3 linked regions of the Homo sapiens genome follow. The protein of the gene in region 2 purifies or fractionates together with the protein of the main gene of each other region. This does not show direct contact. Each region holds a gene or a part of one and is shown on either strand. Other genes may lie near its edges.

Region 1 (3,653 bases), on a different chromosome or scaffold from region 2:
ATTCTCCCATGGTTCTGGGGGACAAACGTCCAAAATCAAGATATCAGCAGATTTGGTTCATTTCAAGACTCTCAAGGAAAATCTGTTTCATGCCTCTCTCTCAGCTTGTGGTGGTTGCCAGCAAACTTTGACATTCCTTGACTTGTAGACAAATCACTCAAGTCTCTGCCTCCATCTTCACATCCTTCTCTTTATTGTCCATGTATGTATCCAAATTTCCCTCTTCTTTTAAAGACAGCAGTCACTGAATTAGAGCCCATCCTAAGCCAGTACAACCTCATCTTAATTTGACCACATCTGCAAAGACCCTATTTCCAAACAAGGTCATATTCACAGGTAGAAGGATTAGGACTTAAACTATATTTTTAGGGGACATAATCCTACCCACTTTGTGGTGGAACTCCCTGTATTCACGTAAAATGAAGCCAAAGGCTAACATTCTTATTATCAAGTTAGCAGCCAAGCAAACATCATCCCATCTCATTCTTCTCCACAGATTGTGGCTGGTTCTGCTTACACCTTTTGCCTGTACTCTCCCCTCATTGCTCTGTGACTGAGGATATGCCCAGCAAATTCCCATGGGTCATGTGCCTTGTTAACATTCTCACCCCCTTTTGACTCATCCCACATGCAAACTACAGAATTTGAGGCACTTTAGTCAGTCATTCATATTGTTCAAGAGACAATAAATCTTGAATGATGCTGGGGGTCTTGATGTCACCAGGTGTACTAGTCCATTTTCACACTGCTACAAAGAATACCAGAGACTGTGTCATTTATAAAGGAAAGAGTTTTAATTGACTCACAGTTCCGCATGGCTGGGGAAGCCTCAGGAAACTTACAATCATGGCGGAAGGAGAAGGAGAAACAAGTACCTTCTTCATTAGGCGGCAGGAGAGAGAGAGAGAAAAGGAGGAACTGCCAAACACTTATAAAACCATCAGATCTCATGAGAATTCACTCACTATCACAAGAACAGCATGGGGGAAACTTCCTCCATGATCCAATCACCTCCCACCAGGTCTCTCCCTCAACACGTGGAGATTATGGGGATCACAATGTGTGATGAGATTTGAGTAGGGACACAGAGCCAAACCATATCACCAGGTTCAATGTCCTCTTTGACAGTGTAGAACTACAGATAATATAGAACCAGAGTGAGATAGTGACTTCCTAAGAACAGGTATCTTGCCTTCCCCACCCAATCTATTCCAGAGTATCAAGAGAATATGTAGATCTCACCACTGACCTATGCCTTTCAAATGAAATGCCTTTTCTTTTGTCTCTTTGCCTATAGATATTGTGTATTTCCAAGATAGAAATGTAAATCCTCTTATTTGTGCTTTTATCATCAGATACAGCACACCATAAGCATGAAGAAATATTGCTGCATTGAATGGAATGGTGTAATTTGTTTTAACACTTTCCCAGTTAATATAGATTTTCTTAGCCTATAAAACCTAATTCAAAAAGATAACATTATGTAACTTTTTAAAAAATGTGTCTAACATGTGCCAAATATCTTACATGTGTTAGCTTTAATCCTACAACTCTGCAAGGTAGATATGATCATTCCTTCTTTTTCAGAAAAGAAAACTGCATAATCAAATAGCACATATATTTGGCCCCAAACTAAGTAATCTTTCTACTGTATCTATCGTTTCTAAGTTGCCCCTCAACTGATGATAGGTGATCAAACACATGCCTGCTGTATGTGGGTACTCTCCCCCCTTATTCAGCTTATAGTCCATTTTATTGCTACATTTTCTTTCTGCCAAGTTTGTACCTAACTCACAGTTCTTATCTTGCATCTGGGAACTGGGTTTGAGACGTACTTTGTATTTTCAAACTAATTTCAGGGTAATCATAGATCACCAGAGTGTTTTCAGGAGCATTATGCCTTAATTGGTGGGTGTTTTTTGAGTAATGGATGTCCTGGATGTATCTGGAAATTCAATAATGCCTCACAACTCAGAAAGCTACCTTTGCATATGTTGGTAAACATCTTGATGTCCAACAGATTTTCTCTACACATAGCTCACATTACCCATCTAGTAACAAGTCTACTAACAAAGAAAAGAAAACCAACAAATTAAAGATGGTCTGAGTTGGGGGGATTTCACAGGCTTTCGATTAATGATAAAATTTTGTGTGAAATGTAGTCTAATATTTTTTAAAACCTTTGTTGTATAACTTAGGTTAATGTTTGATCAAAATCTTCAGCTCGAAGGAGGAGAAGGTAAAGGGAATCCTGGCAATTTGGCCATCACTATTAAAAGAAGACAAGAGCCTGACTATATTGAAGGAAAAGAAGGGGTTGGTTAGAAAGACTGAATGATCCCAACCTGGCTCTTCAAATGTTCCAGTTAATCACTTGGCTTCACCCCTTCTGCCTTCTAGCATGAGCACTCCCAGAACTGAATGATCAGAGTCTTGCCTGCTTTAGAAAGGACATGACTACTCATGCAGGCCAACTCCCTACTTCTCAAGATAAAAAAAACTGAGGCCAAATGAGGCGAAGTGACTTGCAACAATCATGCAGCTGTCCAGAAGCAAAGCAAGGCTAAGACTTCCTCATGCCTAGGGCTGCTTCCTCCTAGATCACACAGTTTTTCACATTCCATTCCATTCTAATTCTGGCACTACACTTACTCACTCTGTGGGCTACAGAACACTCCAAAACTCTCTCTGCCTGTTTCTGCATCAAGCTTCTATAAACTTTGTGAACTACTTTCCAGGAGTACTGTGATGCTCTCACCCCAGTAACAATTCCCTTTTCTGAGTGTTACCTGGTTCTAAGCTTTCATTACAGTTGTGTGCAGCTTTAATGCTGCCTCACCTCCCAAGGGAGTTGAGAGAACAATAGTAACAGAAAACAACGAAAAAAAAACAGCTGGACAGTTGCTGTTAAAGTTTTATGACTATATGTAAGCCCTTACAATAGGAAGATCTTTCCTGGCTTTACATACAAGTCTAAAACATAGCAAATAATGAACATTTAATGACTAGATTAAAATGTCATCTGCTAACCACCTTCTGAAGGGTTGCTTGGTTATTTTGGGGGGTGGGGGTGAGTCAGTTTTTTTAAATTAGAAACTGCCTAAATCTGACACCAACCTAATTATGAAGTTCTCCCACTGGGTTAGTCACTATATATAAAAGATGAACTGAACAAGACACAATCTCTGCCTTTGAGAAATCTATGACCTAACAGAGCAGATAATGCATTCGCAGATTCAGGAGTAGAGTTTAAGACGCATAGAAGAGTAAGATATTAATTTACAAAATGAAATAGAAAAGGGAAAAGAGTATTTTGTAGGAAGCACTCATTAAGATTTGATTATGCTAATAACACAGATTCAAATAGGCAATTTTAAAATATAACACTTTAAAAATACTTTAAAGCTTTTTAACATTGCTTTTATTTATTAAAAATAAGCTTAGACTGTTAGTAAAAATCATGTTATGTTATGTTGTTGCAATTAAAAAGAAAAGAGAAAGAAATTTAAGATTAATTGTCTTGTTCTCATCAAAAATCCCTTTGAAACCAGCCTAATTTTCCATAGAAATGAGTTTATGGTCTTTTTGAATAAACATAGAAATTGACCCTCCTGGTCTTAAAGCTTGAAACTTACATTTGTCGTATCTGAATT
Region 2 (5,018 bases):
GAAGATACATGTTCAGATTTGTCCTTTTATAACTTTACATTTGGCTTTTTATGCCACGTCCCGTGTTCTTTCCTTGAGGACTGGCTTGTAGAGTTGATTCTCTAATTTGTGATATGGGCATATTAAATTCCTTGATTGAGAAAGCCCTTAGCCAGCCTGGGTTGGTGCTATGCCTGGTTCTTCCTGGGGCCCGTACCACCTCCTACCCAATCTTAACAGGTTTCATCATCCCAAACAAGACAAGACAAAGCCATGTGGCCTCAGGGATACTGTAGAAATGAAAGAATAGGGCTATGACCACCAACGGGATGAAAGATCTTAGCAGTGGAGACTGGGGAAAAGAAACACCAGCTTGGCGAAGTGGCAGGTTTTGGCTAAAGATGTGGCTAGATTTGGCAGGGGAACAAGTGCCTGAGGATCTCTTCTCTTTGGGGCTTTCAAGGTTTCAGGAAATCAGATTGCCATATCACATAGCCAATCTTATTTCCCAAGACTCTTTTTTGGCCCCTGTCCTAAATGTCCTGTAAACACACATGTCTGATTCCTATGTCACTTCTGATGCAGATTGTGAAATCAAGTCTTTACTATTAACAGCTTTTTATTGCTTGCTGTCTTCTTTGTGTTTTAGCTCTTCTTCTCTGCTGAAATGTGAGCTTTTTGAAGTAGGAGGGAGATTTTGAGTTTCTTTTTTATCTTATAAAATATCGAGTTCAGTGATGGACATATATAAACTAGACATTAATTATAAGTTGATTATTAAAATAATCACATCCTTCTTTGTGGGCTAAGCCGTTGACACGGTAGTCTAATTTCAGCTATCATGCCACTGAGTTCTTATGTGATGCCATTAAAAATGCCCACATTAAAAAAATGACTATAATCTGAATTGTATAAAGAAGGTAATGTGATACCCTACCTCGTTTTAACCTGATTGTCTCTCTTAGCTGAGAGAGCCGGACAGACTCCATTTTTGTTTCTTCACTTGCAGCTCCCCTCCCTTAAAGGCATAAGTAGTGCAAGCTGACTCCGAGCACATCCAGGAATGCGCTTACTGATGAGATATCGAGGCAAGCTAAATCAGCAGTTCCTGAGGACGCGCTTGGGGGATGGCACCCAAAGCCCCTGCATTATCTCTTTGTGATAGTTTGAGCCCCTGCACCTGGAACTGTTTACTTTTCTGTAACTGTTTCTGTAACCAATTAATCTTTCTTAATTGGTTTGCCTGTTCTGCTTCTGTAAAAATTGCTTCAGCTAAACTCCCTCTCCCCTATTTAGACCACGATATAAAAAGAAATCTAGCCCCTTCTTCGGGGCCGAGAGAATTTTGAGCTCTAGCCGTCTTGTTCGCCGGCAATAAAAGGACTCCTGAATTAGTCTCAGAGTGTGTCATTTCTCTATAACTCGCTCAGTTACAACAGTAAGATATAAAGAATGAACTGACATTAGTAATATAGTCATGCAGCTAGATCATACTTGATAGCTTCCTTCCTAGGTAAAATACTTTTTAAAAAAATAAGTAATAATTAACTTGCAAAAGTAAATTTATTGAAGCATAGAAACAATTAAAGCAAAGTTGTTAATTCAGCTATTTCAAGAGCATTCTAATGAGGAAATAAGAAGATGCAGAAAAGTTGGCTAGTCATCCATTTCTGGACTGAAGCTTTTCCTGAAATTATCCAGAAAGATGCCTAGATTGATGCCATTTCTTCGCTTGTGTCCTTCTTGATTTTTTTTTCTTTGAAAGACACTTTTGTTGATCTGGAAGTTCCTTATTTAACTTTCACCTCAGAAATACTGCTGACTTGAGACGAGACAACCTTGCCATCCACCAACTCCTCTACGATAGTCTTAGTCACTCTAGTCTTGCTTGAATCTGAAAATCATGGGATTGCAATGTCAGTCTGGAAACTCTCACAGAAACACAGAGCAAGAGAAATTCAATCACATGCATTCAACGTGTTCTGTCTGGGTAAGATTATGTAAAAAATAGCGGACTCTTTTAGTATGACAAGCAAAGTATGTCTTCACTTTTAAATTACAGAACTATTATCAATATTAAAAAAAGTCTACCTCGTCCTTGACCAGAACAGCTTCCAGATCTTGAGTCACCAGATACCAGATCCCTGGATCCCATGTTTACAGATCCTGAGTTTCTACCACCAAATTCTGCAAAACTAGAACCACTGGAGAAAAAAAGAATTATGTTTTCCTTTGCAGTTTGCAAAGGCAGGAGAAAGCCTCCGCCCCGGGGATTCTTCATGATGAAGTTTTGGATGTGTTTATGTGTTTTAATTGGATTGTGTCTGCTGCTTTTTTGTTCAACCTTGCACTCCTGGGCTCAAGTGATCCTCCTGTCTCAGCCTCCCCAGTATCTGGGATTATAGGTGTGCACCACCATGCCCAGCTAATTTTTTTTTTTTTTTTTTTGAGACAAGGTCTCGTTCTATCACCCAGGCTGGAGTATAGTGGCATGATTACAGCTCACTGCAGCCTCAGCCTCCTGAGCTCAAGTGATCTTCCCGCCTCAGTCCCCTGAGTAGCTGGGACTACAGGTGTGTGCCACCACGCCTGGCTAATTTTTGTATTTTTAGTAGAGACAGGATTTCACCATGTTGGCCAGGCTGGTCTCGAACTCCTGACCTCACGTGATCTGCCTGCCTTGGCCTCCCAAAGTGCCGGGATTACAGGCATGAGCCACTGTGCCCAGCCTCCAGCTAATTTTTTAAAAATTATTTTTTGAAGAGGAAGGGGTTTTGCTATGTTGCTCAAGCTGGTCTTGAACTCCTGGGCTCACGTGATTCTCCCACCTCAGCCTCCCAAAGTGCTGGGATTACAGGCCTGAGCCACTGCACGCAGCCTGTGTCTGTTACTTTATTACTCTCTATATATACAAGTCTAAGCCCTGAGTCCCATTTTGGTTTTATAAAATAAATTCACTAAGGTATGCATTTTAGTTTGTTCATGACTTTGGTTTACCCTCCCTCTCCATCGAGCAGGCGGCGGTAGGTCTCGATCTCCACCTCCAGGCGTGTCTTGATGTCCAGCAATTGCTTGTACTCTGCGTTCTGGCATTTAGTCTCACCCCAGATCTGGCAGATCTCCTCCTCCAGGGCACTGATCTGCGTTTGAATTTCTGACAGCTGAGCCACGTAGCCAGCTTCTGTGTCAGCCAGGGTTCCCTCCAGGGAGCTTTTCTAAGAGAAAAAGCAAATAAAAAATTCATGATGAAAATAAATCATTGGATGATTTTTTAAAAATGCAATTTTATGTGGCACTAGAAGTGCACCTTCGCCATATAACCTATATTGTTATATCATTGCTTCTTTAATTTTGGTTGGCACTTCTTTTTAAACTAAATCTTTTATGCAAAATAGAGTACATTATCTTTAACTTTTAATGCTTTCTATAATCATAATGCAGTTCTCCTTAACACTGCCTTTTTTATGTGCCTAGTGAACCTCTTGGCAAAGAAAGAAAACTGCATTTGCTTAACTCCCTGTTGGAAAATGTGAAAAGCTATTTGCACATACCATGGCCAGTTGGGACTGAAGCTCAATTTCCAGGGCTTGCAGGGTACGTTTTAGTTCTGTTATCTCATTCTTGGCAGAAGTGGCTGCCCCAGCATCAGTGGAGATTTGTGCTTGTAGTGATGCGCTCTAAATACAAACATAATGCAGCTGTTGTAGGCTGATGAAAGGAGCAGAAGCGGCTTGTGTGTGGCTACTGGCTTAGGTGCTCAGCAGAGAGGATCTACCTGCTTGTTGAACCGCTCCTCAGCCTCTCGGCGGTTTTGCTCAGCCAGCTCCTCGTACTGCGCCCTCATGTCATTCAGTAATTTGGTCAGGTCGGTCCCTGGCGCAGCATTCATTTCTACGGTCACCTCCCCTCCAGAGCTTCCTTGCATATTCTTCATTTCCTAGCATGAAGGAAAAAAGACTATCGTGATGCAAACAGAAAAGTGATGACTTCCGAAAATGTGCCTAGACAACAACAATTTGAAAGTAGGACACTGAAAGGAAAAAAAAAAAATCAAATCTAGGTATAATTTACTCATGATTACTTTTGTTTCCTGGTCATAGTATGTGGGAAATTCACTTAGATAAAAATGAGTTTATTTTACCTTTTTTTCTTTTTTTTTCTTTTTGAGATGGAGTCTCACTCTGTCACCCAGGCTGGAGTGCAGTGGCTTGATCTCGGCTCACTGCAAACTCCGCCTCCCCAGTTCAAGTGATTCTCCTGCCTCAGCCTCCTGAGTAGCTGGGATTACAGGTGCAACAGGTGTGCGCCATCATGCCCTGTTTATTTTTGTATTTTTAGTAGAGAGGGGGTTTCACCATGTTGGTCAGGCTGGTCTCGAAATCCTGATCTCATGATCTGCCTGCCTTGGCCTCCCAGAGTGCTGAGATTACAGGCATAAGCCACCGTGCCAGGCCTATTTTACTTTTTTAGAGACACAGTATCTCTCTGTTGCTCAGGCTGGAATCCAGTGGCATGATCATAGCTCACTGTGGCCTCCAACTCCTGGGTTCAAGGGATCCCCCTGCCTCGGCCTCCAGAGTAGCTGAGACTAAAGGCATGAGCCACTGCACCCAGCCAATTTTATTTGTATAGAATGCATATGGGGAGAAATATGTTAGCTAGAGTTATTCGTTTATGTAGAACATGTTCCTACCTCCTCGTGGTTCTTCCTCAGGTAGGCTAGCTCCTCGGTGAAACTCTCAATCTGCATCTCCAGGTCAGAGCGGGTCATAGTCAGGTCATCCAGGACTTTCCGCAGGCCATTGATGTCAGCCTCCACGCTCTGCCGGAGACACAGCTCGTTCTCATACCTGGAAGGGGCAGCAGTAAGGCAAAAAATACTGTGAGCTCACCTGGCCGTGTTTCAAAGGGTACCTTCCATTCTTACATATTGAAAAAGTTCTCACTTGTGGGCATTTTAATAAATAAAGGTTATTAAGTTTTCTCTTGGGAAATTTTCCCTTGTAAAGAAAAATACCAATGTAATGTTAATTCTAATC
Region 3 (2,807 bases), on a different chromosome or scaffold from region 2:
TAGCCTTTTCCCTCAGGCCTTCAACCTATAGTTTCAACAGGGCAAGCCTGTCAGATGAGAAAATGTAATTCATAAAGTCCTGCATGGGTTCAAGCCCTCTGCACAGTGGTGGAGACATGGTCCAGTGATACTGACCATGACCAGTGATACTGGTCCATGAGCAGATACAATTTCACAATCTCTCCAACACCCAGGAAGATGAGGGTCTCATCATGGTCAACCCTGCTCTGAGGCTCATCAAAGGGCAGCACAGAAACAGCCCCAACCCTCAAATCTCCATTTTCAGATGCTTCTAACTTGCGTGGGAAAGTTTATTCACAGCATTCTAGAAGGCATGGGGCTCCCAGGCTGGGATTTCACCAGCTCAGTCTGCTTGTTCATGTTCGTGCAGATCTTTCCTCTAGCTGAGAAACAAGAGTAAGAAGAGAGGGATGCAGAAGAGTGCCTGATAGAAAAGCATAAATATGGACCAAACAAACAGACAGAAATTACCACGAAATGCATTCAGAGCTTTATTCATGCCAAAGTTTGGGGACTGTACTAACTCTGGCAGGCTGCCTTGGTAGAGAAGCAAAGCACAGAGGCAAAGTGATGAGGTTCTACATCACTGGCACTAACAGAGAGGGGGCCAGAAGCTGGTGCATGTTCCAGAAGGGGTAGCGGGGCAGTGCATTCTGGAGTTGAGCTGTCGTATGTTTAGCAGCAGCAGTCATCCTCATGGTCACAGCATGCAGGACCTCGGGACCTCATGGGGATAATTCCCAAACAGCAGCACCCAGAGCTGCCACATCCACAGCTGCAGCCACAGCCCCCAGAACCACAGCATCCAGAGCTTCCCGAATTCTCACAGCAGCCAGATGATCCTGTGTTGCAGTTCTGGGGCCGCTGAATCCAGCGTCTCAGGGGACTCACCCCGAAGGTCCGGGGAGCCAGACAGCAGTAGCTGGTGGAACAGGGAGCAGAGCATGGGTCAGTGACACAGTACTGGGAGGTTGAGCCACTTGCAGGAGCTTGAACATAATAGCTCTGGCAAGGAGAAGCACCCTGGACATAGCACGTCTGGGTCTGGCAGGGAGCTGGACTTTTGATGTAGGTCATCTGGCAGGGAGCTGGGCACTTCACGTAGGTTTGGCAGGGAGTTGGGCATTTTACATAGGTTGTCTGGCAGGGAGCTGGGCACTTCACATAGGTTTGGCAGGGTGTTGGGTATTTCACATAGGTCCTCTGGCAGGGAGCTGGGCACTTCACGTAGGTTTGAGTCTGGCATGGAACTTGGTACTTCACATAAGTTTGAGTAGGGCATGGAGCAGGGCCTGTCACACAGACAGTTTGGGTCTGGCATGGAACTGGGCATTTCACAGAGGCACCATTGCTACCCTGCCCAGCCCCTAGTCCCGAACCTTTCACACAAGATGGAGGGAACTGTGGCTGCTTCTGCTGGTCACACATTGTTCTGTGGCTTTGCAAAATCTGAAAAGAAAGGTTTCATTAGAACTGTAAAACCAGGAAGGTTTCTAGGGGAAACCTTCAACATCCCCTTTGAATACAGTGATTTGCAAGCAAGGCTTTCTTGAGAAGGTTGCAGACATCCAGAGGCTGTATACTTGGCAGGAGGTGGATTCAGAGCCAGGGACTCTCAGCTCAGCTTCTGTGCCTGTACCTGGCTATGTGGCTTGGTACAAGTCATCGCTTACCTCTGGGCCTCAGTCTCTATATTGGGAAATGGAGGCTTGAAATGGTGCTGCCTGTGTTTCTACCCAACTCTCCAAGCCTCCTCTCCTCTTTCTTCAGTGTCTGCATTGTGAATTACCCTTTGGAAATTGCTGCTCCCAGATGATTGACCCCTGCCACCAGTTCTCTCCAGGGTGACTTCCCTTCTTCCTTCTGCCCAGACAAGGAATACCCAGCAAAGACAAATTTATGTCCATGGACCCTGAGCCAACATGAGCCTCAAGCTGTGCCCGGTACTGAGCAAAGAACAAGGCTAAATTTGAGCAGGTTTCTACCAGGTGCTCCTTGAACCAGCTGGACTAATCAGTTGGCCTCATTAGCACATAGACCCAAGAGAGGACTGCACAATTGCATTCAGATAAGGGGATGGGGAGCCAGTTCTCTAAAGTCCCTTCTTAAACAGGAATGCCAGCTCATCGTGTCCCCCTCCCTCTCCTCTCATGCCCCAGGCTCCAAGTTTCCCACCAGCATTGCTTTCAGCCTCCTTCAGCAGATTTCCTAAGCATCTAGTCCTCGCTCACCCTTCATCCCACAGCTCTCATCCCACCCCAGCTTCCCCAAAGCTCTGTTTCTCACCATGTCCTTATCCCGTATAGAGACTTACCCTCTTTGCTGATAGGAGCAAGACTGGAAGAAGTCAGTGATCTGAAAAACTAGCAGGTGGGGAGACCTTTTATAGGGCAGCAATGAGGCAATTTAATGGCATCTAAATGAAGCACCAGAGATCACAAGGAGAAGGGATGGTGTTGCATTGGCAAGATTCCTCCCCAGTATGCCTGGCTCCTCAGTCAGAGGCAGGGCATGTCTGTGCTTGACATTGGGTTTTCCCAAACACTAGATAAATGATTCCTGTTCCCTTCCTCAGGAAACAAGTCAGTCTCCTTTTCCTATAAGTTATGAGTGATGCCTATGTGATCTGTCTCTAATGAAGCTGTTTCCAGGTCACTTGAGTCTTCAGGACTTATCCAAGTTATAGTTAGATTCTCAATTTTTCATACACTGTGCCAAAAGCTAAGTGTAGCTCAGAGAATCAAACTAAAATTGAGAATCTAATCTAAAGCTAAGTGTAGCTTTTG

Evidence for each region. Proteins that work in one complex are often made in the same cells at the same time.
Region 1: the proteins of KRT24 (region 2) and SERPINB12 fractionate together in Homo sapiens (co-fractionation; one large-scale study listed by BioGRID). This does not show direct contact.
Region 3: the proteins of KRT24 (region 2) and KPLCE fractionate together in Homo sapiens (co-fractionation; one large-scale study listed by BioGRID). This does not show direct contact.

The regions. Positions count from the first base shown.
Region 1 is NC_000018.10:63,552,216-63,555,868, reverse strand, and holds part of SERPINB12 (serpin B12), read right to left. Parts: intron 1-3,653. UniProt on the Homo sapiens protein: Inhibits trypsin and plasmin, but not thrombin, coagulation factor Xa, or urokinase-type plasminogen activator. May play a role in cell differentiation.
Region 2 is NC_000017.11:40,696,468-40,701,485, forward strand, and holds the end of KRT24 (keratin, type I cytoskeletal 24), read right to left. Parts: intron 4,830-5,018; coding exon 4,673-4,829; intron 3,917-4,672; coding exon 3,755-3,916; intron 3,657-3,754; coding exon 3,531-3,656; intron 3,195-3,530; coding exon 2,977-3,194; intron 2,184-2,976; coding exon 2,071-2,183; intron 1,874-2,070; coding exon 1,770-1,873; 3' UTR 1,524-1,769; downstream 1-1,523.
Region 3 is NC_000001.11:152,718,164-152,720,970, reverse strand, and holds KPLCE (protein KPLCE), read right to left. Parts: upstream 1,450-2,807; coding exon 697-1,449; 3' UTR 501-696; downstream 1-500.